Linked DNA regions of Homo sapiens. The protein of the gene in region 1 interacts with the protein of each later gene in a pairwise test. Each region holds a gene or a part of one and is shown on either strand. Other genes may lie near its edges.

Region 1 (7,021 bases):
AAACAGATATCAAGTAAACAGCATATAGTTGAGTCTTGCTTCTTTTGTCCAACAGGACAATCTAACCTTTCAATTAGTAGTTAGACCACTTATATTTAACGTAATTATTGAAATATATGTCACAGTGCATTTGAAGGAGAGAAATCACACAGCAATTTGAATACAGGAAATTTAATATAAACATTATTAACAAGGCACAGAGAATTAACTACTGAGGACAAAACGCTAAGGTAAAGAGATCCCTAGAAAATACATGTAGTAGTCAGTACTTCTAAGGCTGAGGCAGAATAGCCACAGAAGGAACAAATTTGGAATAGGTGCCCCCACCCCTTTCCCAAGCTAAGATTCAGATGATGTTGAAGGAGGTGTGGCTGTAGCCCACTGGATGGTGGAAAAGTTTGCTCAAGTGTGGTAAGCTGAGGCTGGCAAGTAGGACACTGCCTACTAGGATGCCAACAAAATTATTTGGAGGCCTTTTGGCCCAGAAGGCTAAAGATATTTACTATCTAGACCTTTACAGAAAAAGTGTACCAACTCCTAGACTACATGAGTGGACTGGAATGGAAAGTTTTTAAGGCAAACCTTTATCGGAAAATGCATATCAGAATTTAGTGTCTGTATATTACTGGAAGATGCTTGGATTATTCAGCCCAATACGGATGCAGGGTGTAAGAAAATACTAAGACGGGCCAGGCGTGGTGGCTCACGCCTGTAATCCCAGCACTTTGGGAAGCCAAGGCAAGCAGATCACTTTAGGCCAGGAGTTTGAGACCAGCCTGACCAACACAGTGAAACCCCGCCTCTACCAAAAAATACAAAAATTAGCCAGGCTTGGTGGTGCACGCCTGTATTCCTAGCTACTTGGGAGGCTGAGGCAGGAGAATTACCTGAACTCAGGAGGCGGAGGTTGTAGTGAGCCAAGATTGCGCCACTGCGCTCCAGCCTGAGCAACAGAGTAAGACCCTGTCTCAAAAACTAAACAAATAAAAATTTAAAAGAGAAAGTATTAAGATGTTGAATTTTGTGTGTTGGCCCTAGTATATACTTCCTGAGGTTGTCTGGTGTGCTCTCCCACATCAACAGACCACTTTATGAGAAGTTTTAGCTTTTAGGCCCAACTTCCACCTCATACCTTTGTCAACTGCATGTTCTACTTTTACATTTACGAGACTGTTAAAACCCACACTGTTCTACAACCAGATCTTGAGTGTTTTGTCCGTAGCTTGTCTCTAAAAAATTGAAACGACATTACATAGTTATAACTAAGTAAATATTGTTTCAGAAGAGTTAAGTAGTATGCTAGGATTATAAATCATACTTGATGGGTCCAGTGTCACAACTGCTTGTCTGTTCAAAGGGAGAAATTTTTCTAACCTCACAGTCATATGGAATCTTTTCTTGTATTCCATCAAGTGCTTAAAGTCAGGCCCTGCTTTTGTTTTTATCTTATTTGGACAGTGCCTTTTTTTGTATTGCTTTTTTATTGTCCTAGAGTTTATAATGGCCTTTCCCCCACTCTTGTCAAAATAACAATATTCCTTCATCATGGCTTCGGGTTTTTCTGAAAAAACACAGAAAAGTCTTTTGAAACACACTTTCATGGAATCCTTCTCTAAAACCTAGACCTCTTCCATCCTCCTGTTCCAATCTGGATTTGTCTACTCTTATGCTGGGACTTACTTTCACCCCATCTCTAGGATTGAATCCACTATTTTGTGTAGCCTGCATTTCTTTCTCGCTTATTTTAGGAACTATTTAATACATCCTCAAGTATTTTCCAAGGAAGGGTGCAAAAGGGGGTAATTTGTGCGTATCTAAATATAAATTTAGTCTCTTTTACTTTATTCATCCTCTGACTGGGTATGGAAATCTAAAGTAACTTTCTTCATATCTTTGATGACGCTGCTTCATTGTCTTCAGGCCTACAGTCTTGATGAAAAATTTGATTCTGGTGTAATTCTCTTTTCAGGTGACCATTTTTGCTCTCTGGAACTTGTGGAACTTTTTCTTTGGTATTTTGGGATTTAATTAGAATGTGCTTAAGTGTGGGTCTTTTAATGGCCTTGGTACTTGTTGGATCCTTATAATCTGGAGACTCATATACTACCTTAGTTTTGGGAAATTTTTTTCCATTAATTTCTTCCATAATTTCCTTTCGCTTCTTATCTTTATTTTTTCTTTCTGGGATGCCTCTTAACTGGATTTTGGATTTCTTGGATTATGCCTGTCTCTTCTTTTTTCCTTTCTTTGTCTTTTTGCTTTATGTTCTGGGAAATTTCCTTTAACTTTTTCATCACTATCATTAGGTTGTTTGGCCCTAACTATGAGGTATTTCTTTTGGACCAGGGGTGAAAATTACTAAAATATGAAATGTGCTGTGATCCATGAAAGCTTGGGAACCTCTGCTCTACAAAGCATGCCCCACCTATAACCAACTTCGTAGTCTTCTTACTCAAAGAAGAGGTACCTTGGAAATAGATCTATTTACTCAATTAAAACACCATACATCAGTTATTCATTCTTAAATATAAGTGGACAAGCAAGGAAGGATCACCCAACATGAGGAAGAAAAACAAACAAACTATTCTTTGGTTTATTTGTTTTTTTAAATTTCAGTAATCATGTCTTTAGTCTCTAAAAGCTCTTTCTTGTTCTGAGTGATCCTTTATCATAGCAGTCTATGGGGTAAATATAATAATCTCAGATCTCTAGGTATACTGGTGAGAGGGTGTTTTTTTCCTCTCTTTTCCCTGAATTATATGTTTCCAGGGGTGGAGGGAGTCTCTCTGTCTCTCTGATATGCTCTTATTCTTCCTCATGGTGGGTGATCCTTCCTTGCTTGTCCACTTATATTTAAGAAGGAGTAACTGGTGTATGGTGTTTTAATTGAGGAAATAGATCTATTTCCAATGTACCTCTTCTTTGAGTAAGAAGACTACGAAGTTGGTTATAGGTGGGGCATGCTTTGTAGAGCAGAGGTTCCCAAGCTTTCATGGATCACAGCACATTTCATATTTTAGTAATTTTCACCCCTGGTCCAAAAGAAATACCTCATAGTTAGGGCCAAACAACCTAATGATAGCAGATTGCATGGTATCTGAAAGATGTTACTGTGTTTCCTTCGAATTTAAAATACTCCACATGCCTCTCTGAGTTGGCTGTGGTGCTCTAAGTTCAGATGGTATCCTGAACTGGTGAATTTCACACACGGTTTGGGAACCATGACTTAGGGTGAATGGATTGGGAGTGAACAGGCCACAGATTCTTTAAATTTCAGAATGAGGATTGCTTTGTCTGGGCACCAGCAGCTACACTACAGCCTTAGATCTTCCATTAGCTTTGTGCTATTTCTAGAAAAACCTTGGAATCTTTTTGCCTCAGTATCTGTACTCTCCTTATCTATACTCTGTGTTCATAGAGTGGAGAAGGCACTAGTTTCCCCATTTTCTGCCCCTCTTCTTACTTCTGCCTTTGTTTCCCTGAGACCTCATCCTTCTTTTCTCCCAAGGGTTCTGATGGGCAGATAAGCTTAGCCTCCATCCTAGTCCTCCATAATGTATTTTTTGGCTGTGGCTGTCACTGTTCTTTTTCATTTGAATTTGTTTTCTAACTTTCAGATCTGTATAAATCTCTCATCAAGTGATGAGCCTACCCTCACCTTTTCCTGGTGTGGACTTATTCCTTTTTTGTACTCTTAATCTTTAATGTAATTTGGGGAGGGATGGGAAGCCAACATGTGTACATTCTGCCGTCAGGAACTGGAAACTACATTGTCTCTTGATTTCGCATCATAACGAGTGAAGTGGATACTATTAATGTCCTCTTTTTACAGCTGTGATAACTGAGCAGCTGGGACTCAAACCCAAGTCTGTTACCACTAAGACATGTGCTGTTTTTATTGTCGGCTAGGAAGAGGTGTTAAGTACACAGGTGTTAAATTCGCCAATTCAGGATGTCATCTGAAACAATTACTTCATTTTTAAAAAGAGATTGAAGGTTTTATGTGCTAGGAAAGCTTTCAGAATTGGTCAGGAATTTAAGATATTGATCAGCCTCTGCCTAAGGCCTTTTCTTAGTTACTGGATCATTTTGAGCAATGATTTTCAAACTTTATTTTTTTAGTCAAGTCTTCCTTTAAATTAAATCTGTGCAGAAATCCAGTATGTTTACAGATAGAATAGGTGATGCTGCTCTGGTTGAAGTTAGATGGGATGCTCACAGTTCACTCCTTAGCTCTCCTTGGTGGCCCCTAAGACTTCTCCTTTGAGCAGTTTTAAAAACCTTTCATCTAAAATAAATAAATAAATAATTTTAAAAAACAAATAGGAAAAGAAAAGAAAACCTTTGATCTAAGGTTGCAAACCGTTTGTCCAGTGGCTGGAAAACATTTTAAGTAGTTTAAGAATAGGTTGGTACCAAAATAAGATTAAATGTAAATTATTTTAAAATTACTTGGGTAGGTGAAATGTTTACTCTTGTTCTCCATTTCCTACTTGCAGATTATTGCGCTATTTGAGCTCCTTCATAGTGCTGGTTTCTAAATAAGGAAATAAGCAAAAAATCAACATGCTAACTTCTTAATCTATTGAATGGGTAATTAAATTAGTCCAAAATTGCTAAAACATGTGTAGTGAAAAGTCTGCCTCCCATGCTGCCCCCCTTTCTCCACTATCTCTCCCGTGCATAGAGGACCCCAGAGATAACCACTATTATTAGTTTCTTATGTACTCTTCTAGACACAAGAAAATTTGAATATATACTATCTCCCTATCCTTTTACACAATAGGTAAGTTGACTCTATTTAATAGAAATTGAATAAAAGGAGTATTTAGAAATATATGCAAAATCAGTAAAACATTCAGTTTTATATAAATATGTGACTTTTTCATTTCTTTTAACAGGAAAAAATTAAAGAGTACATCTAAATATATTTATCAAACATTATTTTTGAATGGTGAAAACAGTGACATTAAGATTTGTGCTCTAGGAGAAGAATGGAGCTTACACAAAATATATTTATGTCAAGTAAGTATTTTTTCTATTTGAGTAACAGGGTAGTCACTGAAACTCTTAAGTCATGTTCTTCCTCATTGCACTTCACAGTAATCTTTTGCATGAACACCATAGTGGTTAAATCCTCTCATTTGATCAGTCTGTAAGAAAAATGGCAAACATTGTTAGTGAAAACTAAGTTTGGTCTAGAAAGAGATTTTGATATTTCAGTATCAGACTAGCCTAATACTACGTATTTGTCATTACTTCATAAAATGCTTTTTTCGGTGCCTTCTGTTGATAAAAGGGGAAAAGTTGGGGAAAAAATATTTAACATTAAAGTTAAGATTGTAGTGTTTATTTTGCTTATGGTTATTTAAATTGGATAAACTCATCTGAAATGTTGCTTTGTAGTTCACATTGAGTGTGAATAGAAAGTTCTCTCCTGAAAAATGCAGGTAAAGACAACACCAAAAAGTATATAGACTAAGTAGATTTCTGTACTGAAAATATTACTACCTGCCACCCCACTTTAAAAATTCAGAACTTTCATAGCTGACGTGGTGTTGGGCACCTGTAATCCCAGCTACTCAGGAGGCTGAGGCAGGAGAATTGCTTGAACCTGGGAGATGGAGGTTGCAGTGAGCTGAGATCGTACCACTGCATTCCAGCCTGGGCAACAGAGCGAGACTCTGTCTCAAAAAAAAAAAAAAAAAAAAAAAAAAAATCGGAGCTTTCAAAATAGAATACAATGTTGCTCTAATGGCCCAAATATTTTATTCATTTTCTTTCATCAAATCTATAAGCTAGGTATTGTTTGAGGCACTAGAAATAAAACAACAGTTTTTATCCTTTGGAACTTACATTTTTCCTCTTTACCATTTGAGAATAATTACTGGTAAGACAGCATAGTATAAAATTTTTCAGTAAAAGTATTTGAAAATGAATTGCCTTCTCTAACATTTTAATCATGTTTTAAAATGTGTTTTTGAAACAAATTTATTTTGGCTTGAAGTATGTTGCCCAGATACTATATCAGAATATTGCTTTTAACTTCAGGGTATGATTCATGTTGTTTCTTTTTAATATCTGAAAGCAGTTTTGTGAACTTGAGGGTAAGAATACCTCTGTTAAAACTTTACCCCTCGTGGAAGATGTATTATAATTCAAGCCACATGCTAAAATATAAGCCCCCTGAGGACAGAAACAATATCGATTTTGTTTATTGCTATATTCACAGTGCCTTCTACATACTAAGTACTCAGTAACATTTTTAAATAAATTAGTTAATATTTGATCCATTTCAAAGTAATTCTAATTATGAGGAGTGCTATCTGGCAGATACCTAAAGACTTCATTCTGTACCTTTCCAAGAATTCAGGTCCATTCTGGACATTTCTCATTAAACTAAATTTTGGATTTTCCCTGGTTTCTTTGGCGATCATCCTGTTTTTGCTGACTTGGGACTGGTTTGGTCCTTTATAGCCATTCAGGTGTACAGTAAAGATTCAACAGTTTGAGTAAAAAGCTAACCAGGTTCAAATAATATACATGAATTCAATTTAGATAGTAATATAAGAATTTTAGTTTTTTGTCAAAAATAGTACTAAACCAAAAGTATATTTTGATACACCTAATAGTGTCCTTATCTTAATTTCTTTTCTCCTGTGGACATATTTGGCAGTTCTTTTTCTGTTGAAGTAATAGAATGGATGAGTTTAGTTAATGGATAGAATAGTTGCTTAGAATTAGAAATGGGCAAATAATTTGGAAGACACAGAAAGTACTTGATAATCGTTGACTTTTTTTTTTGTTTAAGTCTGGCTACTTTTCTAGTATGTTCAGTGGTTCTTGGAAAGAATCCAGCATGAATATTATTGAACTGGAGATTCCTGACCAGAACATTGATGTAGAAGGTAACTACCACAATAATTACTATTATGCAACAATCGTAAAAACATAATCTTATTCTTCTGGTAGAAGATAAATAATTCCTTCCAGCCTTGTAGTCTAGAAAACTCCTTTTATC
Region 2 (7,021 bases), on another chromosome or scaffold:
GGTGGGGAACGTGGAGGGCAGTGAAGGTGTGGTGGATGTGGCTGCATTGGACGGGTTGGGTGTGGAGATGCCTGAGGGCCATAGGTGGGTGGCTGGACGTGGTGAGGGTATGGAGCCTGACAGACACCCCGCTGGAGTCAGATGGAAACCTGGGAGGGGTCCCTGTGCAGCTGGCTTGGAGGGGATTTGGTCTGAGCATGCAGGGCAGGGGTGCAGGTGCAAACCGGGGCCCCAGGGAACAGCCCGGGCGAGGTCGGGAGGGGCCTGTGGTGTGATCGCCGGACCAGCAGAGGTGGGGAAAGACGTGGCAGGAACCCTGGGGCGGCCAAGTGCGGGGCATCAGCTATGCCTGGGGACGGGGTGCGTGTCCATGGCCCGATGCCTGCAGCAAGCGGACACTGAGGCAGAGAGGGGTGTGAGAGTCAGGGGCTGGGGGCACTGCTAGCCCAAAGATTGGTTGGGTGTAGCAGGTGGTTGGGTGTGAAGGACTTGGGGAGGGGGAGCAGTATTTAAGGGCTGGTGGAACAGGGAGTTGACTGCTGTATCTGGAAGGCCATCCAAAGGCCAGGGGTAAACTGAGGCTCTGTGAAGCTGCCTGACTTGTGAGATGTCTGCCCCGAGCCCACCCCATAGCCCCTTCGTCCTCCCCTCCCACACCTGCCCCGTGGAGAATCCCTGCCTAGCTCATTGTCTGCCTCCCCTCTGGACCGCAGGCTCCCGGGGCAGGGGCAGGGTTTGTCTTACTCCTGGCTGTGAGGTCTCAGACAGGTTGCTTGCTCTGAGAGGTGAGGGTAGGGACCTCAGGGTGCCCAGAAGGGGCAGGGCTGGGTGAGGGGGCACAGTGAGCTAGGGGTGCAGGTCTCAGAATAGCAAGGACCTAAGGCTGCTCAGTGAGGCCTGGGGTGTGGCTGGAGAAGGGGTGAGGACTCGGGGCTGAGGTGGCCACGTGGGTGGATGGATGACGCCCTCACCTCTTCCCGAGGGCTGTGGGTACACCAGGAGCCCCTGCAGGGAACAGTCGACTTCAGGGGCTGCTGTGCAGCCCATTGTGCCTGCCCTAGGAGCCCAGGATGGCATAGGAGTCCCCAGGAAGTTCACCACCTCCCTGGGGAGGACAGGTCTGTGTGGGAAGCAGCCTGGGACCTGTAGCTATAGAGTGCTAGAAGTGGGGCAGCCACGGAAGGCTGCCTGGAGGAGGTGGAAGGAGGCCTGAGCACTGTCCCAGAGAGCGCTCCCGGAGGCAGACCCACGTGGGCAGCTGTGGCACTTTGCCTCAGGGCTTCCCTCTTTGCTTGTTACTCTACTTCCTCTTGTGGTGACTGACTCTTGGGAAGACCCGCCCTGCCCTTCTCTGAGGTTCTCAAAAACGTAAGCGACGCTTTATTTTTATTTGTTTTTAAAAATATAGCCCTGGGCAGGAATCCAAGAGTGCTTCCTGGAGGCTTGCTGGGTGTGTGCCCGCAGTGCCACATGCGGTTTACTCACGGGGCCCAGACAGAAGATGCCTCTGCTCGGGGCTGGGGGACAGTGGTGGCCCCAGGGGGACTGGGAGCCTCCTGCCTGCCCTCTACTCCCCTCGCTTGGGTTTGGGTCGGGAATATCACAAGAACGCGGGCTTTTGCCCAAGGTCCCACAGCACATCTGGGCAGAGTCAGGGTTCCAGGCCCTCTCCCACACCTCAAGTTTCCTTCATGACACCCGGGACTTCTGCCTGTCCCGTCCCCATCTCACAGCAACACAATCCAAAAGATGTTGGTCCCAGATAGCCCCTGGGCTGTGCACCCATTGCAAGGAAAGAACTGCTGGCTGCTGACCCCACTCTGACCCAGACAACCGGAAGTGCAGCCCCTGCCTTGGGGAGCTCCGAGCCATCCCTGTTGGAGGCCCCCACACTACCCTCCTGCCTTTGCACAGCTTTAGTTCAGGTGAATTGTTGGCAGGTGGCTCGGAAGAGTGGGTCATAGTGGGTCTCTGTTTCCTGAGCATGTGGGGCTCTGCATCCTGGGGTCCTACCCTCCAGGAGACCCCATTCTGGGGGAAGAAAATAGAGCCTCAAGAATTGTCTGGGTTTCTGGAAGGCTTCCTGGAGGAAGGGGAACTTGAGCAGGCCAGGACCTTGCCAGGTTTCCCGTGCTGCATGCAGCCTCATTGGCCATGGTGGCAGACACTGCCCGGGCATGGGACATTGCCACCAAACATCTCTCTGGCCCAGAGAAGTGACCCAGGGTCCCAGGGCCACACAGCCATTTTGGGGAAAGCAGGTCTGGTCTTGGGCATGGCACTGCTGACTCTGGGCCTCAGCCATCCCAACCTAGCACTGTGGAGGAGCAGGAGTGAGGGCCCCAGTCACCTGTGCCACCCAGGGCCAGCTCTGTGATAGCCTGGGTGCTGATGGGTGCTCTTTGTACCTGGGTCCTTTAAACCGCCCCCAACACACTGGCCAGGTTCTGGGGTCAAAGACTCCTCCAGCCACCACCTGGGATTTACCTGTGTGAGGGACACTGGTGGAGTCTGAGGAACCGCCCAGGCCAGACTGGCTCAGGGTCAGAGTCCCTGACTCTGGGGCGCCATGGTCTTCAGTGACGCCCGGGAGGCTGGGTGTGTGTGAGTGTGTGTGTGTGTGTGTGTGTGTGTGTGTGTGCGCGCGCGCGCGCGCGCCGGTACTCGCGTGTTAGTGCGGCACGCCCCGGCTGGCCTGCGGGCCTTAGTTTCCCCCGCTCAGCGCCGCGGCCCGGCCCGCCGCCGCCATGTCGTTGCAGCGCGCTGCAGGAGCAGAAGGGCGAGCTGCGCAAGCGGCTGTCCTACACCACACACAAGCTCGAGAAGCTCGAGACCGAGTTCGACTCCACGCGCCACTACCTGGAGATCGAGCTGCGGCGCGCGCAGGAGGAACTGGAGAAGGTCACGGAGAAGCTGCGCAGGTGAGGGGCGGGGCGAGGGCCGGGGCGGGGCGAGGGCCGGGGCGGGGCGAGGGCCGGGGCGGGGCGAGGGCCGGGGCGGGGCGAGGGCCGGGGCGGGGCGAGGGCCGGGGCGGGGCGAGGGCCGGGGCGGGGCGAGGGCCGGGGCGGGGCGAGGGCCGGGGTGGGGCAGGGCCCGAGGCCCGGAAAGCCGCACGCGGTGCTCCCCTCTCACCCTGGCTGTTGACTCCACTCAGATGGGGAGTCCAGAGGTTCTGGTAGGGGAAGCTCTTCCTCCAAAGTCACACTATGGAGCAGCTGAGCCAGGATTTGAACCCAGCAGATCTCCAGACCCAGACTGGTCCACCCGGGGCCCAGCCATGGTTCCCTGGGTCCTGATGGGAAAAGCTGTGTCTAGCCCGGAGATGAACCAGTTTAGGGACCCTTCCCTTGAGCGCGTACGGGCTAATGAAGTGTCGATCCAGTTGTGCTGGACTCCCTCAAACACCAAACTTTTCTAAAAGCAGTTTTCTTGTGCACATTTAAAATGGATGTTTTTCTGAAATGTAATATGCACTTTCTCATCTTCTTAAACAGAAAATGCAAGAAGCATGCAACCTTTGCTGTTGGCTTGATTTGTTTTAGGTATTTGTAGAGAATCGGCTGGTGTTGCCCCTAGGGAGGACTTGCCATAGGGAGAGGGTTTGTCCCTCTCCGAACAGCCCCAGCTCCTGAGTGTTTTGAATGTCACCCTCCATTCATGTGGAAACCAAGCTTGGGCAGTGCAGTCAGACCTCAGTTAAAATCTGGGCCCTGCCAGTTACTGCTTTAAGTAATTAAAGTTTCACCTCAGTTTCCCTATTGGCAAGACAGGGGCCATAACACGACACATAGGTTGTCTGAGGCTGGACACCATCCCCAAGCCCCCTCCCACCAGCAATGGAATCTCCAAGCACCTGATTCCCACCTGACACTCAGCTCCACTCCTCCTACCCGGCAGAACCGAGTCTTGTTCACTGTGATGTCTCCAGCCTCACCCTGGGGCCCATCACATAGTTAGTGTTAAGTTTCTTCCCTGCTCATTTGCATTTGAACTGTCAACCCCATAACAGGTTTGTAAGAATTGTGGGTCAAATGTGAGTAAACTGGCTCCGCGTGTGGATGGGACAGAGTCTCTTGTGAATAACAAGCCTTCCCTTCCCATCTTCAGGGGGTCCCGGGGTGGAGGGGGAAATACAGTCCTGGGCCCTGGCCTAGGAAAGGCTTCTACAAAAGTTTGCTTTAATGGGATGTTCTCTGCTGTGTGCAGAGGGGCACACATTCCACCAGGGTGAAGCTGGTGGGGTGAGCTCAGGAGGTCCAAATTCAGCCCCACCCTGCTCAGCAGGCTGTGCGGCCATAAGGGTCGTGGGAGGGACAGGCCTTGCATGGCAGTGACCCCCTTGCCTCCTGCACCAGGATTCAGAGCAACTACATGGCACTGCAGAGGATCAACCAGGAGCTGGAGGACAAGCTGTACCGCATGGTGAGGCCGCCACGCAGCGCCCACTCCCCCACCCCACACCTCCTTCCCGGGGGGAGCCACCCAGCTGACACCCCTGGGCCACTCAGGAGCTGGGACACAGGTCTTGCTGGTCCCACCCCTTTCTCCATGGAACATGTGGAGCAGGGTGTGTGCTCTCAGGCTAAGGAAGTACTTGGGTCCAGGGCTGCCCTGTGCTGCCTGAGTGGCGGGTGCGAGCACTCCAGCCTGGGGGTGTGTAAGAGGGGCTGTGGACGGAGGACATACACTGGGAACGGGCCCCCCAGCTCAGCCTGCCAGTCCAAGGACCTGGGCCCAGGAGGATAGGGAGGCCCGAATTCAGGCCCTGGGTGAGCCAGAGGCAGGTTTGAGCCCCAGCTCCGCCTCTCATGGGGACCCCTCTGTGGGGACCCTCACACCACCTGCAGGTGACCTCAGTGGGGTCGCCATTTTCTCTGTGAACACACTGCTGGGACATGTCGAAGAGGGGCAGGGTGTGGGTTTCTGGTGCCACTCCCTCACTAGGATGAAGAGGTTTCCTTTCTTTCTACTTTGGTGACCAGCTCATTTTGGTTTTGAAAGCAACAACCTGCCCACCTTTGTGGTGCTATCAGAGACGGGGGGTGGCAGGCCTGGGGGCTGGGCCTGGCTCTGCCTGGGTGCCTGGACACCGGCCCTTTCCTGAGCCTCAGTTTCCCAATCTGTCCAGTGAGGTGGGCTGGGCTCTATGCCAGGCACAAGTCATCTGTCCTCCGTCCCCACTCCCAGCTCCTGAGGCAGGACGCTGTCACCTCTGTGTTGCACATGAGAAACTGAGGCTCAGAGGCAGTGACGTCCCCAAGGCTGTGTGGCTTGGCAGTGTTGGACCCAGGAATTGAACCAGGGTCTGTCTGTGCTCATAAACCCCACACCCTTGGCCCTCTAAGTGTCTTGTCACTCATGGCTACAAGGGACAAACCAGGGGGTGCAATCGAGCGACTGGGTTGGCTCACCAGGAGCCAACCACGGGCCTCCTCCTCCCACTGTCCCACCCCCAGGGCCAGCACTATGAGGAGGAGAAGCGTGCGCTGAGCCACGAGATTGTTGCCCTCAACAGCCATCTGCTAGAAGCCAAGGTGACCATCGACAAGCTGTCAGAGGACAACGTGAGTGCCGCACACACTTGGCCCATGGAAGACTGCCGGTGGGCCTAGGCGAGGGCTTCCCAGGATGCACTGGGAGTCACATTCTGACTCTGAAGGGTCCTGAGCTCAGCTGCTTTGGCCCCAGCCTCAAGGGGCTGGTGCAGGGTACAGGTGGATGGACAGGCTGGTCAGGGCTTTGAGAAGGACCTGCTGCAGTTGGGGAAAGATGGTGCTGTCTCATTGAGGACGCCAAGGGTGTCCTTAAACAGACCCTCTGCTGTAAGGACTTGAGCTAGGGGATGCGGGGCCATATTATCCCATTCAAGGCAAGGCTTCCTGATCCCAAGGTGGGGTCATGGCCACTCAGGACTCCTGCCCTTGGCCAGTCCCAGTGTTGCATCACAGCCGTGTGGCTGCCCATGGGGCCTAATTTCAGGGACCCTGTGAGATGGGCCCAGTTGCCCTCCACAGACCCTGGACAGCTGCCTCTGCATTCACGAATTAGCTTCTACCTTGCCAGACCCTACTAGGCTCCAAGATGATGGTGTGAACAACACAGGCAAAAAAAAAAACAAAAAAAAAAACACCTCTGGCCACGTGGAGTTCACATCTGAGTGGGGCAAACTCTGGGGTATGTTAGAAGTGTGAAATGCTATAGAGAAACAGAAAGCGAAGAACGGTACCAGGGAGTCGCCAGCTGCAGGGCCTGCAGATTTCAAGAGGGTGCTTCTGGAAGGGGCTGCTGTGCCAGGACCTGAGGGAGTGAAGGAGCCAGCCATGCAGACATCCGTGGGAGAAGCATTGCTTCCAGGCAGAAGCAACCGTGGTGTGCAGCTGTACCTGGTTAACTCGGAGGATCCCAAAGGGGCCAAGGAGCGCCCAGCGGGAGGGGGAGCCAGGGTCTGAGGTCAGAAAGACCATAGGAGGCAATGTTGTAGAGGCTCCTCCCAGAAACCTGGGCTTTATTCTGAGTGCAGTGGGGAGCCATGGAGGGTTCTGAAAACAGAGGAGCAACGTGATTGCACGTGCAGCTTCCCAGGGCTCACGTGGCTGCCATGCTGGAAACAGGCTGTAGGGACGAGGACAGGAGCAGGAAGATCAGGAGGAGGCCAGGACCATAGTCCAAAAGATGATGGTGGCTCAGATGACGGTGGAACTGGGCAGAGGGCTGGGATTCTGGTTGTGTTTTGAAAATAGAATCAACAGGACTAACCAAGATTTAGGATGTGGGTTGTTAGAAGAAGAGCTGAGTCCAACCCAGCTACAGGATTCAGAGCCCAAACAAAAGGAGTTGCCTGCCATTTCCTGGCTGGGGACAGCTGGGGAGGGACAGGAGCTGGGTGGGAGATGCACAGGACCCCTTGGAGCGGAGATGTCACCAGGGCAGCAGGAGGCCCGGGTCTGGAGTTGAGCGTGAAGGCCGGCATGCCGGCGGAGACTGCCCAGGCAGCATGCAGATGAGAAGCAGGGAGGCCCCA
Region 3 (7,021 bases), on another chromosome or scaffold:
TTGCTTTCTATCCCTGCGTAGGGGACATTGGGGTCCCCTTACCTGATGTCCTTTGAGGGCATCTAAAGTAATGAATGCTCTGTCTCCACTGCTGGCAGCATCTGACAGCAACGATGCTGTCGTAAAATTTAATAAAGACAGAGTGCGTGCAAGGAGGAGCCTCACATTTCTCCTTCAGTCTGCGGGGCGTCTGGGCTGCAAGGTGGTGTCAGAGGAGAACCTGGCATACTCGTGGGCATTCATCCTGGGCACACTGGCTGAGCAGGGCCGCTCCCCTCAGGCCCTGGGCATTCACCCTGGGCACACTGGCTGAGCAGGGCCGCTCCCCTCAGGCCCTGGGCATTCACCCTGGGCACACTGGCTGAGCAGGGCCGCTCCCCTCAGGCCCTGGGCATTCACCCTGGGCACACTGGCTGAGCAGGGCCGCTCCCCTCAGGCCCTGGGCATTCACCCTGGGCACACTGGCTGAGTAAGGCCGTGCCCCTCAGGCCCCGGAAGTGGGTTGGCCGTGGCTTCGACAGTTCTCTGTGGCTGATGGCAGTGCGGCCGCGATGCCCTGCTGTGCCATGCTTGCTAGTCATGTTCTTTTCCTCCTAGATCTCCATTTGCCAGGAGATGCCCAGCCTGGAGGTGATCACGCTCAGGTACCTCGCTCCTGCTGTCATGCTCAGCCTGGGGCCTGGAAGCCGGGGCAGAGCCTCACGTCCCTCCAGTGGGACCCAGCACTGTGACATAACCTGGAAACCTCCAACACAGACTGAGGGCGGCTTCCAGAAGGGGAGGGGCCGGGACAGCGAGAGCTGGGCCTACCCTGTGGCCCCCATGTTCAGCCCTCCTTCCTCAGAGCCTCACCTGGGCCTCCTGATGGCTCCTGTCCCCTGCCTGCCCTGCTGTACGCCTGCCCACCCTTGGCCTGTGTGCTCCGATAAGCCATTGCTGTGTTCACTGGGCCAGTCGGTGGTGGAGCCCTCCTAAGGATTCACGGTGGCCCGCCCTGGCCGCCCCCACGGTGGCCACATCTGCCCTGGGACCCCCAGAGTCCTGGCCTCTTCTGCCCCCCAGTGCCACCACTGCCTACCAGTTTCTCTGCACCCCATGACCTGTGCCCGTCTTCTGGGGTCACTGCCCTCCCAGCAGACTAAGGGAAGCTTGAATGAACAAATGTTACTGGACTTTCAGGCAGTTGGGGTGTATTTGGGGGCTCTGGGGAAGAGAAGAGCTCCCTTTATCCCTGAATTCCCTCCTGCCTACTGTGGGACCCACGGAGGGAGCAGACGCTCATGGCTCACCACTGCCCACCAGACGCTGGATGGGCGCCTTCTGTGGGTTTCCGCATTTAAAAGCTCACAAGGGTTTAAACCCTGTGGGGAAGGCCCACCCCTCTGGCAGCTCAGAAGTCTCTAGGGCTTGCCCTCTGAGAGTGGGTATTGCAGGCCCCTGGTCCCTGACTGTGACCTACCTTCTTGATCTCACAGGCAGCCACGGGGTAGGCCAGCCCCTGCCCATCCTCCGTAATGCCCTCTGAGGTTGGCATTGCCATGTTGATGCCCGTGCCCAGCCTGCTGCCCGCCATGGGCTGAGGCCAGTCCATCTGGTGTTCAGGCATCCCCAGCGCGGGCACCAGCCTGTCCTGCCCGAGCCTTGCTGAATGAATGAAATGGGCTTGGAGGCATGCTCATGGGTCAAATCTCAGCCCTCCCATCTATTGGCTGGCTAACCTTGGGCGAGGCATGGCCCTCTCTGTGCCTCAGTTTCCTTTCTGTAACATGGAGGTATTACAAGTGCCCACCCCACAGGGAGATGAGGAGGAGATGGAGCCCGAGTCCAGAGGTTGAGCAGGGGTGCGCGTGCCCGCCCAGAGGTTGAGCGGGGGGGGGGGGGGGGTGCGCGTGCCCGCCCAGAGGTTGAGGGGGGGTGCGCGTGCCTGCCGCGGGGCTCGTTTCACTAGTCAGGCGACACAGTGAGGCTGGGATTTCAGGCCTGCCTCCGAAAGGCTTACCTGACAGGGAAACGTGGAGCTTGTGGTTCCCACGGTGGCAGGAAGCTTGGGGCGGGGCTGTGGATCCAGCCCTATCCCTGCCGCTCACTGAGTCACCCAGGGGCCACAGGGCCTCCGAGCATCAGGCCGCTCGTGTGTGGGGCCATTTCTGTCACATCTCGGGAGGGACAGGACCCCAGGGGTGTTGACCGAGCTCAGGTGCGTGGTGCCTGCACGCCTGACTGCACTGGAGCGGAGCAGGAAGCCTCGAGGCCGCGGACGCGGTCGGTACATCACGCTGCTGCCTGTGCCTGAGGCAGACCCCATCCTGGAAAGAGTCCCACAGCCGGAGTTTTGCTCTTGGTAAAATGGGGCGGCCTCATAGCTAGGAGCTGCATGAGACCTGGGAAACCCCGAGTGAAGGGATGGCATGGGGAGGGGGGCTCAGGACGGCAGGCTGCCCATGGGGGCCTGGTGACCGCCCTTCTGAGGCGCCTGCCGGACGCGAGTGCAGCCCTCCAGGCAGGGGGCCCTGGCTCCGCGCCTTTGAGGGCCTGCGGGAGCGGCTCCGCGTGTTCGCTTGTGGAGGGGACGGACCCCACGCTGCAGGGTAAAGCCTGCAGGTCCCCGCTCCAGGCCTGCTGTTTCTCTTCTCTGACGCGTCCACGTTCTGTAGAATGGAAATGAGGCCCATCCCCAGTGTTGCCGCCCTCAAGTGGGGGTTTGGAAGGTCCGTGCTCACTCCCATGTCACGTGGAGCTGGCTCCTAGTTTTTGCCATGAGTTTTTCTGGCCGCTCCCTGCTTTGGGGCAACATGATATGTCCCCTGAGAGGCCTTAATTTTCCTCACCTGTGAAGGAGGGCCACATCCCCCACCTCCCGCACTCTAGCGCCCTGAGGAGCTGATGTGGAGCGTCGGGCCAAGGGGCTGTTGCTGGTGGGGTCCACCCCAGTCCGCCTTTGAGTTCAGGGCCTGGCCTTCCTACAGCTCTCTCCTCGGCCCAGGTCCTGCTGCACGTGACTTGTGACATCCGATTTAGGCTTCTCAGGAGAGGGCAGGGACACAGGTCCCATGAGTGCCTTTTACTGGGGGTGGGGATTGAGAGGTGGCCCTGGGGGCCCTGGCCACGTCCCTCGCTGACTGTGCTGGTCTCCGTGCAGTGTCAACAGCATCTCCACCCTGGAGCCTGTGAGCCGGTGCCAGCGCCTGAGTGAGCTGTACCTGCGGAGGAACCGCATCCCCAGCCTGGCTGAGCTCTTCTACCTGAAGGGGCTGCCGCGTCTGCGGGTGCTGTGGCTGGCCGAGAACCCGTGCTGCGGCACCAGCCCCCACCGCTACCGCATGACCGTGCTGCGCACCCTGCCGCGCCTACAGAAGCTGGACAACCAGGGTAGGTGGCCGCAGCGGAGTCACCGGCCCTCCCAAAACAATCCCTGGAAGGGGATGTCCCCAGCCCTCTTTTCTCTTCTCCTTTTCTGCAAATACCTGGTCTGGCGGGACATAGATGTGTCCTGTGAAGTCTCCTCCAGAGGCTGTTCCCCTGGCTTCTGTGTCTCCTCTTGATCCCGCCACCCGAATGCAGCAGCGCAGCGTAGGGTCCCTCCTGGGACTGACAGTTTGGGTATCCCCCAACGACCGCAGGACCTGGTAGCAAAGCAAAAGGGTTCCTTCTTTTGCTTCTGTGAGTAGCAGCCCTGCTCTGACCATCGCCATGCGCCATGGCGAGCGGGGGCGTCAGTATCTGGCAAGCAGCATCGCACTGGTCCACAGGGACTGGGCAGGCTCCACGGGCCACTGTGAACCTAGGGTGGCGGTGCCATCGCGCCCCTGCCGTGGGGAGGGGCCGTCCCAGCACCGCAGTGCCTGCTGCTGCGCTCCACCTATTGGAGGCACTCGTGCCTCCTCTAGCCAGCGCCAGCACCGACACAGTTTTCCAGGCTGTGGTTTCATGCTGTTTGTTCATCCTTGGCATTCTCAGCACACTAGTGTCTCATCCTTGTCAGGTATACAGACACCACTATTTTCTCCCAGACAATTTTATTGATATTAATAATATAAACTTCAGGGAAATTGATATATGAGAGAAATGGAATAAATTCAATATGGTCTGTTCCTTTTTCTATTGTGTCTTAGTTGAGGTTTTGAGGAGTATTTGCTTCTGGCCAAGGCTGGTGTTGAGATTCCTGAGCAGCCCTCCACCATCTGTTGTGTGTCAGCCTGTGCCAGGCTGGGGATGGGACAGTGAGGAACCGGCTGCTACTCTGGGAGTTGTCCCTGGAGGTGGATACACGTGCATGCATTTCACAAGCAGACTGTGCCTGAAGCCACAGTGAGGACGGGAGCTGCAGTGCATGTGGCCTGCACGTGGGTGAGGCCACTCATGCTGTCTTCTGTCTTTCATCCCAAAGCTGTGACGGAGGAGGAGCTGTCCCGTGCACTGAGTGAGGGAGAGGAGATCACTGCGGCCCCAGAGAGAGAGGGCACAGGCCACGGCGGCCCCAAGCTATGCTGCACACTGAGCTCCCTCAGCTCCGCTGCTGAGACTGGCCGGGACCCGCTGGACAGCGAGGAGGAGGCAACGTGAGGCTGGAGGGCAGCGGGGACTCCGCAGCCCATCCCTGTCCCCCAGGGTCCTCCCACGGGGAGTGAATGGGGCTTCCCGTGAGCTGCGTCTCTGGGAAGTGAGGGACAGGGATTATCCGGGGGGAGTGTCTGTTCTCATCCATATTCTCTGGGAGTGACTCAGTGCCCAGGTAGTGATTTCAGTGGCAGGTCCATGTTTTGCCCAACAGCGGATGTGCCAGGGAGCAGGAGAGGGGGTGAGCCAGGCCCCGTGCCCTGGCACAGAGAAGGCTCACAGCACCAGAGCTCGTGAGGTGCAGGGAGCCCCTGGTGGGGGGGGTGGCCTAGGGCCACAGTGACTGGAATGGTTTGTGGGCACGGCCATCAGTGCCCGTATGGCCTTGGGCCTGGGGGCCGTGGAGGGGCCACAGGGCTGACTCTGCAGTGAGACGCCGGCGCCTCCCAGGGCAGTTGGCAGCGGGTCACGAACGCATTTGACAGAAGCTGGGCACTTCTCTCCTGCTTGGCAGATCACACCCGCTGCTGGTGCCTGTGGTGGGGGCATCGGGATGTGATCTCTGTTAGGCATCTGCCATCCGGCACAGGGCCTGACCCCATGGTCAGGAGCTCTCCCCCGGCATTTGTGTGTTCGGGTGCCCCCCACCCTGCCCCTGAAGCCCTGGGTGGAAGGTGTTACAGCTGGGGAGCCCCAGGGTGCCGGGAGGGCGCCCCACAGGTGAAGTAAGTGCCGGGCTCTCCAGGAGCTGCCATCTGTAGCCCCTGACCTCCCAGGAGTTGCCTCCCTTCTCTTGCCCCCGTGTGCCAGGTGGGATTTGTATGAGCCCCTCCTTTGCTTGGATGCGACCCGCAGACAGGGTTTGCAGAGGCCCCCCCGGTGCCACGAGCCCCCTGACCCTCACACGCCTTTGTCTCCCTCTCAGCAGCGGCGCCCAGGATGAACGTGGCCTGAAGCCGCCTTCCCGGGGCCAGTTTCCTTCCCTCTCAGCCAGGGATGCCTCGAGCAGCCACAGGGGCAGGGTGAGTGGCGGGCCGCTAGGGGCCGCGGCTGCCTCTGCCCACTGCACCCACTGCACAGAAACCGTGGGGAGGGAGCATGGAGCCTCACAGGGCCCCGTGGGGAGGGAGCATGGAGCCTCACAGGGCCTTGAAGAGCTGTGCCCCAGGGGGAGCTGCGTGTGCGGGTCTGTGAATGCGCACACACGTGTAACACGTGCCCCGCACGGAGCCGTCCTGGCCCCTCAGCCTCTCCTGCTGTCCTGGTCTGTGGAATGTGGGCCCGGGCCCTGCTGGGCTGAGGGCAACAGGAGTCACGTGGAAGAGGTGCCACACACGCGTCCACAGGCGGGGCTCCTCTGCTCAGATTCTCCGAGTGTGCCGGTCAGTCACTTGGACGGCCCACACCCCCGGGACCAGTCGCTCCGTGGTGGGGCACCGCTGGCCAGGCCCCAGCCCTTGTGGAGGGAAGCAGCCTCGCCGTGCCGGGTGGGCTTAGTCCGCACCCCTCTGCCCTCAGAACGTCCTGACTGCCATCCTGCTGCTGCTGCGGGAGCTGGATGCAGAGGGGCTGGAGGCCGTGCAGCAGACTGTGGGCAGCCGGCTGCAGGCCCTGCGTGGGGAAGAGGTGCAGGAGCACGCCGAGTGACCGCAGGACCTGAACGCCGCTCCAGCCTCCACGGGGACCCCAGCGTCTTCCCCAGCCCCCGGGAGCTGGAGGGTGGCTGCCATGGCCGCAGCCCCGGCCCCACACAAAAGCCTCCCCGGTTTGCCACATCGGCCGAGGGCAGGAGTGGGTGTTAGGTACTGGCTAACCGGGGCGGTGGAGATGCCTGTCTACACCAGTCCTGTCCCCAGGACTCCCCTTCTGTGGTCTGGAGGTTCTAGGCTGGCCTGGGCTCTTAAAGGGAGGATTTTGCAGGCTGTCCTCCCTAATAAAAGATTTTCCCAAGGTTGATCTGGAGGTGACGTTTCCCAAGGCATGGTTGTGACAGTCTTCCTGAAAGCAAGGGCCGTTTCTCCACAGAATGAGGAGGTCTTCACGGATGGCTTTGCCGATTCCAGCCCTTGGTCCTTGGATAGATTTCTGTTGGGCAAGGGAGACTTCGAGAATGCTGGCACCCATAGCGACATCTGCCCTGAGCTGCTCAGCAGGCAGGCAGCAGCCTCCCGCACCCATGGGAGAGAGTTTTGTTTTCTTGGCCGGGCTGGGCAGGTGCGCCTTCCTTTCTCTCTCCTGTGAAGAACTGCAGGAGGGCCCTCAGCTGTGAGGTTGTGGATGAACAGGCCTGTTCGCCCTGGGGTCCGGGCCTGGCACAGGAAGCAGCTAGACTAGGGGAGTCCTTGGAGCATCTGAGAGGGGTTTTCTTTCCTCTGGGAAGAGTCGCAAGTCTTATGAGGATGCCACAATCTGGGCAGTGACCCGTGGCCCTGGGGACCTTCCTAGTGCCCCCCAAAACCAAGGA
Region 4 (8,021 bases), on another chromosome or scaffold:
CTGAGGAAAAATCAGACCACACTTACATTTCCTATACTTTACCATTGTGTACTATAAACAGTGAGTGTCAGCTATCTAGGAAACCTAAAGACTGCCCAATGGATAGCATTTTAATAATAACTTAAATGTAATTTTCTGAAAGATTAGATGAATATATTGGTGAGCCTATGACAAATCTTACAGTCCTGACACTCATCACCTGTTGAGGTAACTTGAAAATTTTTTGGTTAAAATTAAACAAACTTAGGTCCAAAGGCCCTATATGTAACTTTCCATAAATGAATCCCATTCACAAAAAAATACCGAATATAACAGCAAAATCGCTGTCTTCCACAAGAGTACAGAAACTTGAGTGAAAAAAAAATTAATGGGCATTGTTGACAGTCATATTCTGGAAACCCCTTAACAGTGAATTGCTAAAGTAACCCATGACCCAAATTCTGTCAATGTTTAACTTCAAAATGCTCTCTGTTGAGGAAATAATTTCTGTTTCATGATAATCTTATCGTACTTCGAGTTTTCTAATTATAAAAGTATATAAACAACTCTTTAAAAGCCCCTTAAAATCATACTAATATAGCTACCTGTATGCCAATGTCCTGAATTATCCAGATTTTACCAAACATACTTTCAAAAATACAAAGCAAAGGAAAGAGTGGCTGTCATTCATTGAGCTCTTTTCTGGCGTTGCTATCCTGCTTCACTGAACTTTGTTTTGTCCTGAGCCAATACTGAAGTACTTACAGTACAGACACATTTGAGTATTAACATTTCAAGCAAAATCATTCACGTTTTCTAATGTGAATGGTAGGGAGAACACAAACCTTGGAATGAAATATGAATTCCTTCTCCATGACTCAACTGTTCTTGGTAAGCCTCCATTTCAGAGCCTCAGTTTTCTTATTTATAAAATGGGGCTAACATCCTTATGCAAATGGGCTTTATTCAGTGTATTCAGGTAGGGTGACTTGGCATTCTACATGCTATTAAAGGGTGCATACAATACTGTGGACACCTTGGCTGAGAAGATCAGACAACAACATTCTAAGAAGATCAAAGTAAACTAGTGAAATAATGTATATTTTTGTACATCAAATTAAACAGTTTCATCTGATTTAGCAAGGACTGTATTTTCAAGCATACGAAATATATTTCAAAGGTAAGAGAAGATTCATTATATCCATGAAGCTGCAAACTATACTCTTCACTTTTCCAGCCAACTCTCAGCAAATGTTTGAGATCCTTTCCTAATGTTTTCTTTCCTCCTGTTACTGGTCATGGCATAAGGCATGATGCACACATAGGCCTCCTCCCCTCCCCATAGACATTCTTTCTTTCCCTTCCCAGCACCTTGAGTCTCAGCTGCACCCTGATCTTCTTCTCTCTCCTGACCAGGTGCAGGATCCCGACTTTCAGTTGGTGGTTCCTCTTGCTGAGGCTCCTCATCACCGGGCTCCTGGAACCAGGGGTGTGTGTGTGTGTGTGTGTGTGTGCAGATAAAAAGTTTTGTTATCGATACATTTCAATAATACAAATATACAGAATACATAGATATTTCTGATCATAAGTCTAAAGACATTTCTCCAACACGATTCCACATACTTATTTTTCATAAAGTTACTCTTCCCACAGAGAGGTTACTCTAAGACAGTTGCCCTCAAGGGCTTTGGAAGCTGTTTTAATCTAAGCTGGGATGAATGTGTGTAATCTTTTGCAAATAAGCATGAGAAGGAAATCATGGGCAAAATCTGGGGAACACAAGATCATCCATCCAGACAACAGAAGAACTTAATCCTCTTGGACTAGTCTTTCCTTCATGAGATGCCATGATTATTTTTCTCAGCATGGGAGACCTTTATTGGTATATCTATACTGGTTCAACAACAATTACAAAACATAGTTTTGCAACAACAACAAGTTACAAAAATAACTTTCTGCTAATAGAAAACATCAAAGGTTAAGGCACTCACCAGCATAGGCCCAATCAGCTCAGGAGGTGGTACACTTCTCCTCGGCCTAGGCCTATATGTTGATCTTCCTCGCCAAATCATATTTCACACTGCAAACAGAATACTGTGAATTGGTAAATGCACTTGAAAAGACAGCTATATTTGACCACTTCCATGACCAAATATTAACTTGTCATTTTTTAAAAGTTTGTAAATACTTTCGAACTAAGTCTCAGGGCAAGTGTAAGTATGTGTGCCTTCTGAATGCTTGGGAAGCCATTAAGTTGGTCAAGCTAGCTGAGCAATTTCTTAAGGCTCCTGGCAAAAGACAGGATATTTCCGATGAGGTTTGGTTTCACAACTGAACTCTCCTCCGTGGAGACATTTGGGAAAATACAGCCAGAGAATTAAAACTGCAGTGACCACGGCTTTTGTCACACACCCATTTGCTGGGCCCATTTCCCCCCTAAAATCAAGTTTTGTTGGAATGCAGAGCCCCGCCCATTCAAACCTCCACAGTGGAGTTGAGAAGTTGCCACACAGCTCTGGGCCCTCCTCACTGTACACCTCTGCCAGGCGCTTTACAGACCTCAGGGCCACAGTCACCAACCCGCAGCGTTCCCAGTTCCCTTCCTTAATGCCCACCCTGCTCCTTCCCGGGTCGACACGGAGGAGTCTGGAATCCGTCCTCGGTCGAGGGTTCCAGGGACTCGGATACCTGCCCCAGCACCCCCAGCACTCGCCCCATTTTCACCTGACCCCTCTCAACTACGCGGCCCACCTTCTTCCCTCATTCTGACTTCACCACAACAAGGCCCATGGCAGTGCCACCTCACGAGGAGAAGGACGATCACCTTGAGACCCTTCGGCCTCTGAGGCCACGGGCTATGCTTTCCCACGCTCCGGACAGCCACTGGCTCCTCCTCACACGCACTCACACTTCAACCCTTGGGAGGACTGGCCTGCGGACCTACCAGCTGCGTCTCAGTGGGACAGAAAAAGTCCAGACAGCAGGAACGCGACCCTCACACCCTCACAACTCCAGGGCATTCACCACGTGGGAAAAGGGGCCGAGGGGAAGACACCCAGTGGACATGCGCAGTGAGGTCGGTGCCTGCCTAGTGGGCTGTGGCGCCTCTCCTAGCCCCACCCCATGCCGCGCCGCGCAGTTCTCTACCCTCTCCCAGGTTCCCACTGAAGACTTCGGAATGTGTCTTCTGTGGGCGGTTTCATATGCCTCCGGGACTCAAATACCACAAATAGTTTCCCCCTTCAAAACTCACTCCATGTTCACTAGGTCCTCCTCCCCTCTATGGCCCTCCTTCCTCCCCTGTCTGGGACCCCCACGACAGCAAGGCCATGGCTGTGTCACCACCTGTTAGGAGAAGGACAGGAACCTCAAGGACCTCCCCGTCGGAGGCCATAGACCGCGCCGCGGGCTCCTCCTCACAGTCTCTCCCACTTCAACTCTGGGAAGACTGATCTTCGGACTTACTGGCTGACTCCTAGTCAGCAGCACAGAAGGAAGTCATGATGTCTCCTTGCACAGCTCTGCAGGGACAGAAGGCGGACAGCAAGGCACATGGACAAGGGACTTGGGCAGCAAGGGACGTGCACACTGAGTCAGGCACATGCAAGGCCACCCGGGGTTTTCCCTCTCTCCCCAGGCTCGCATCCCTAAGGTGTTTGTAGTAGAAGGAAAGGGACTAAGAGGCTTCGTTCTCTCTCTTGCCCTACCATTCTCATGCATCCAGAAACACTGGGGACAGTCCCATGTCACCATGAGTGGAGGATGTGTCTCAGACCTTTTGTGACAGAAATAAATTATTTTATTATATATATTCATACATACTTCTTTCTCATTTATATATGCATGGGTGTCTGCCATGTTGCAGGAAATATCTGGGATGCTGGAAATGTGAAGACCAAGGAACCACACGTGGTATGTCCCATGGAGGCTACCACACTGTGGTGGGGCAGACAGACAGTTAAACAGAAGAGCAGTTGAACTGCAAAGGAGAAACACGGGGAACGGACCCAGGGGAGTAAAGAACAATGAATGTCGTGGCCAAGAAGCAAGGGAGAAAACAACACAATTTCTCAAGAAGATAATATTTCTCCATTGCCTTTGCACCTTTTTTGAAAATGAGTTTATCATGTCTGTGAACCTATTGCTGGACTCCATTCTGATCTGTTGATTTTTCCCCAGTACCACATTCCCTGGATTACTATAGAATTAACATGACTCTTGAAATTAGGTAGTGTGATTTCCCCAAAGTTATAGTTCAGAATCGTTTTGGTTTTTCTCGTTCATTTTCCTTTCCATATAATTTTGAAAAAATGACTCCAATGAAGTGGGTTGTATAAGTTCATGCAGTTTCGCTTTGAAAGGCAGCAGATAAATGTGTTAGTAGCTATAGGAGGACATGGGGGAAGAAGGGGAGTTCCCCCCTTAGCTTGGAGAATGATCCCATTTAGAGGGAAGAGTTGGTGGTTCAGGAGAGAGGAATGATCATTGCAGGAGCAAAGCTCCTGAAAAGGTGGGAGGCATGGGATCCTGAGCTGAGGTGAGGGGCTGGCTTTAGTTAGGAGCATTGTATGCAGAAGGGCGGCAGAGAATGCCAGGGCAAGCACAGGTAGACTGGGTTTTAGAAGCTCTAAGAGTTCCCAGCAGATCGCTTCTCTCCTCTAAATGAATCATTATGGGAGGTCATTCAAATGGAGGAGAGTTTCTAGCATTGTGTGGGTGTTTATATAACTATAGAGAAAGTTTCTGTCATCTTAGAGAATACATCAATCATCATGAACAGAATATTCCTAGAAATATGAATGTTGAAGGTGAGCTCTCAGACAGGAATGGGGAACACGGTGTTGGAAACATGTGGACACACAATCCCTGTAAGAAAGTAGCAGAGAATTTGGCTAGAATGCATTCTCTTAGATGCAGAGTAGAACTTGTAAGTGATGAAATTGTATATGTAGCTAAGAACATTTCTAAGCAAAGTATTGAAGTTGTGGCCTGGTTTCTCCTCGCTGTTGGTTGCAAAATGTAAGGGAGGAGAAATAAAACAACAACAGAATTGCTGAGCAAAAAGGAATCAGCCCTTGATTATTTAGAAGATTCTCAGCCTAACCAGATAGCAAGCTCTGGAAATAGGGCCAAGGGTGTAGCAGGACAACTGATTGCTAAGGATATGAGCTATGTGAGTCATGGATCCAGTCAACCATCTCAGCAGAATGCAGGGAAGGAGATGCATTTATCCAGGAAAGATCTAGGGAGGATTCAGGGTCTGTTGGCATGGATGCCATGAATTGCATCAGAGGCCAACATGTTTTTGAGGATTTTATACCAAAAGAAGCACAGCCAGCCTGAAATGAAAGGGACAGAAATGGGACAAAATAAAGGAAGAGTGACTTTGAGGGGAGAGCTACAGATGCAGAGGCTGGCAAGCTGCCACTGCCTCTATAGGCCCAGACAGCAATGACCTGGGGAACAGGAATCCAGACGCCTCTTCCTGAGCTCCAGATGGCAGAGCCACCTCCTCAATTTCAGAAAACAGGGCTTCTGCCCAGGGGTGAGGGAGCAGGGCTAACATTCAGGGCCAAGAGGGCAGAGCTGCCACCCTACTAGGCCCAGAGGACACATCATCAAGCCAAAGAGGACCATTCTGAAGCCTTAAAATCTCTTAAAGTCTGAAACCTTGCTTGGACCCCATGACTCCTTTTCTCCTTCCATCTTCTCCATTTTGGAATAGGAATGTTTCTACTATGCCTGCACCTTCATGCTGTTTTGGAAGCAGATAACATCTTGTCTGGTTTCACAAGTTCACAGATGAAAATAATTTTGCCCCAGAATACAACATACTCTGACTCTCACCCTTTCCTGATTTTGATGACATTTGAATGAGATTTGGGATTTAGAGTTGATGCTGAAAAGAATTAAGAGTTTTGAGGATGTTGAGATGAGATGAATGTATTTTAGATGTGAGAGAACATGAATTTGAGGTGCCAGATGGTGGACTTTTACATATTAAATCATGTCCCCTTCAGAAATTTATGCAGGCATAAATCATAGATATTGCATGTACTGTTCCAGAACACCACAATAAAGCAAGTCTCACACATTTTTTTATTTCCTAGTGCATATAAGAGTGATGTTTATAGTATGTTCTCACTCATAAGTGGGAACTAAGCTATGTGGATGCAAAGGCATAAGAATGATACAATGGACTTTGAGGACTCAGGGGAAAGGGTGGGAGGGGGGTGAGGGATGAAAGACTACAAATTGGTTTCAGTATATACTGCTCAGGTGATGGGTGCATCAAAATCTCACAGATCACCACTAAAGAACTTACTCATGTAACCAAATACCACCTGTTCCCCCAAAAACCTATTGAAATAAAAAATTTTAAAAATGATAATAAAATAAAATAAAAGTGATGTTTATACTACACTACAATCTGTTAACTGTGCAATAGTATTATGTCAAAAAATGTACATAACTTAATTGGAAAATACTGTATTGCTAAAAGATGCTAAAGATCATCTGAGCCTTCAGTGCGTTGTAACTTTTGGGCTGGTAGAGAGTCTTGCCTGGATGTACATGGCTGCTGACTGATCAGGGTGCTGGTTGCTGAAAGTTGGGTGGCTGTGGCAATTTATTTTCTTTTTTTATTTACTTTTTAACAAGCTAATACTACATGGAGGGCTGTGGCAATTTCTTAAAGTAAGACAACAGTGAAATTTGCTCCATTGATGTACTCTTCCTTTCACGAAAGATTTCTCCATAACAGGCAATGCTGCTTGATAGCATTTTACCTACAGTAGAACTCCTTTATAAATTGGAGTCAGATCTCTCAAATCCTGCCATTACCTAATCAACTCATCCTTTGCTGTCATTTCCACAGTGTTCACAGCATCTTCACCGGGAGTAGATTTCATTGCAAGAAACTACTCTCTTTATTCATCCATAAGAAGCAACTCCTTACAGGTTAAAGTTTTATCATGAGATGGCAGCAGTTGAGTCACCTCTTCACGCTCCACCCTTGTTCTCTTGCTGTTTCCACCATGTCGGCAGGTACTTCATCCACTGGAGCCATGAACCCCTCAAAACCACCCATGAGGGAATACACGGTCTGCTGTCGTTATGAGGAGCTTTCTTTACATGTCACTTAGATCCAATTAGTCCATGGTGCCATTCAGTTCATCTATATGTTGCTGACTTTTTTCCATTGGTTCTGTCTGATTTGATTATGCATTTTAAAGCTTTGTAGTTGAGTTCTGTGCAAAAAAGAGGTAATATAGCAGGTCTGAAACTACTATCCTTAGAAAGGCCAGCTTGCAAGACTGGCCCTTGCCTGGCATCTCTGAACTTGATTTCAGGAGGTTTCCCACCATTCTCCATCTGATAAGAGTGGTTTACTCCTCCGAAACTGTTCAAGCAATATGTTCTATGCTGAACACCAGCTTCCCTTCTGGGAATCTGAAATGTTGTTGCCTGTTAGGCAGAGAGTGCCTATGTGACCAGTCCCCAGTAAAAACCTGGGGCACTGAGTTTCTAATGAGCTTCCCTGGTAGACAACATTTTACACATGTTGTCACGATTCATTGCTGGAGAGACAAATTGTGTGACTCCATTGGGAAGGGACTCTTAGAAGCTTTTGCTGGTTCCCGCCGGACTTTGCCCAGTGGACTTTCCCCATTACTGATTTAGCTCAGTATTCTTTTGCTGTAAGAAATCTTAGCCACGAGCACAACTATACATTGGGTCCTCATAGGCAATTACTGGAAGTGAGGGTGGTCTTGAGGATCCCTGACACAGTGGCAGCAACAGTGTGATTCTCCAGCAAGACCCTGACTCACTAAAATATGATGAAAGACTTCTTTGAATAAAGAATGAAGAAGCAGGCATGACGAAGCTGTAACACCTGGGAGACTGTGGATTTGCCCATAATAGGAAGCAGCAGCTGAGCTCTTGTCTGTTGTGAAAAATATATGTACTCACAGCATTTCACAGTAATCCCTCCAATGGCAAGAGAGTTGGCCCACTGGATCCCTGAGTCGCTGTTCTAT

What was found.
Region 2: the proteins of GMCL1 (region 1) and BEGAIN interact in binary tests that used the Homo sapiens proteins (3 or more experiments, as listed by UniProt).
Region 3: the proteins of GMCL1 (region 1) and CFAP410 interact in binary tests that used the Homo sapiens proteins (3 or more experiments, as listed by UniProt).
Region 4: the proteins of GMCL1 (region 1) and XAGE3 interact in binary tests that used the Homo sapiens proteins (3 or more experiments, as listed by UniProt).

The regions. Positions count from the first base shown.
Region 1 is NC_000002.12:69,832,646-69,839,666, forward strand, and holds part of GMCL1 (germ cell-less protein-like 1), read left to right. Parts: intron 1-4,901; coding exon 4,902-5,025; intron 5,026-6,811; coding exon 6,812-6,908; intron 6,909-7,021. UniProt on the Homo sapiens protein: Possible function in spermatogenesis. Enhances the degradation of MDM2 and increases the amount of p53 probably by modulating the nucleocytoplasmic transport.
Region 2 is NC_000014.9:100,542,401-100,549,421, reverse strand, and holds part of BEGAIN (brain-enriched guanylate kinase-associated protein), read left to right. Parts: intron 1-1,294; exon of another isoform or gene 1,295-1,925; intron 1,926-2,759; coding exon 2,760-2,921; intron 2,922-3,154; exon of another isoform or gene 3,155-3,514; intron 3,515-4,355; coding exon 4,356-4,422; intron 4,423-5,456; coding exon 5,457-5,564; intron 5,565-6,478; exon of another isoform or gene 6,479-7,021. UniProt on the Homo sapiens protein: May sustain the structure of the postsynaptic density (PSD).
Region 3 is NC_000021.9:44,329,381-44,336,401, reverse strand, and holds part of CFAP410 (nuclear encoded mitochondrial protein C21orf2), read left to right. Parts: intron 1-597; coding exon 598-644; exon of another isoform or gene 645-3,139; coding exon 3,140-3,369; intron 3,370-4,387; coding exon 4,388-4,559; intron 4,560-5,482; coding exon 5,483-5,579; coding exon of another isoform or gene 5,580-5,939; intron 5,940-6,075; coding exon 6,076-6,204; 3' UTR 6,205-7,021. UniProt on the Homo sapiens protein: Plays a role in cilia formation and/or maintenance. Plays a role in the regulation of cell morphology and cytoskeletal organization. Involved in DNA damage repair.
Region 4 is NC_000023.11:52,865,083-52,873,103, forward strand, and holds the start of XAGE3 (X antigen family member 3), read right to left. Parts: upstream 3,002-8,021; 5' UTR 2,924-3,001; exon of another isoform or gene 2,731-2,923; intron 2,220-2,730; exon of another isoform or gene 2,168-2,219; intron 2,074-2,167; exon of another isoform or gene 2,060-2,073; 5' UTR 2,052-2,059; coding exon 1,971-2,051; intron 1,457-1,970; coding exon 1,351-1,456; intron 1-1,350.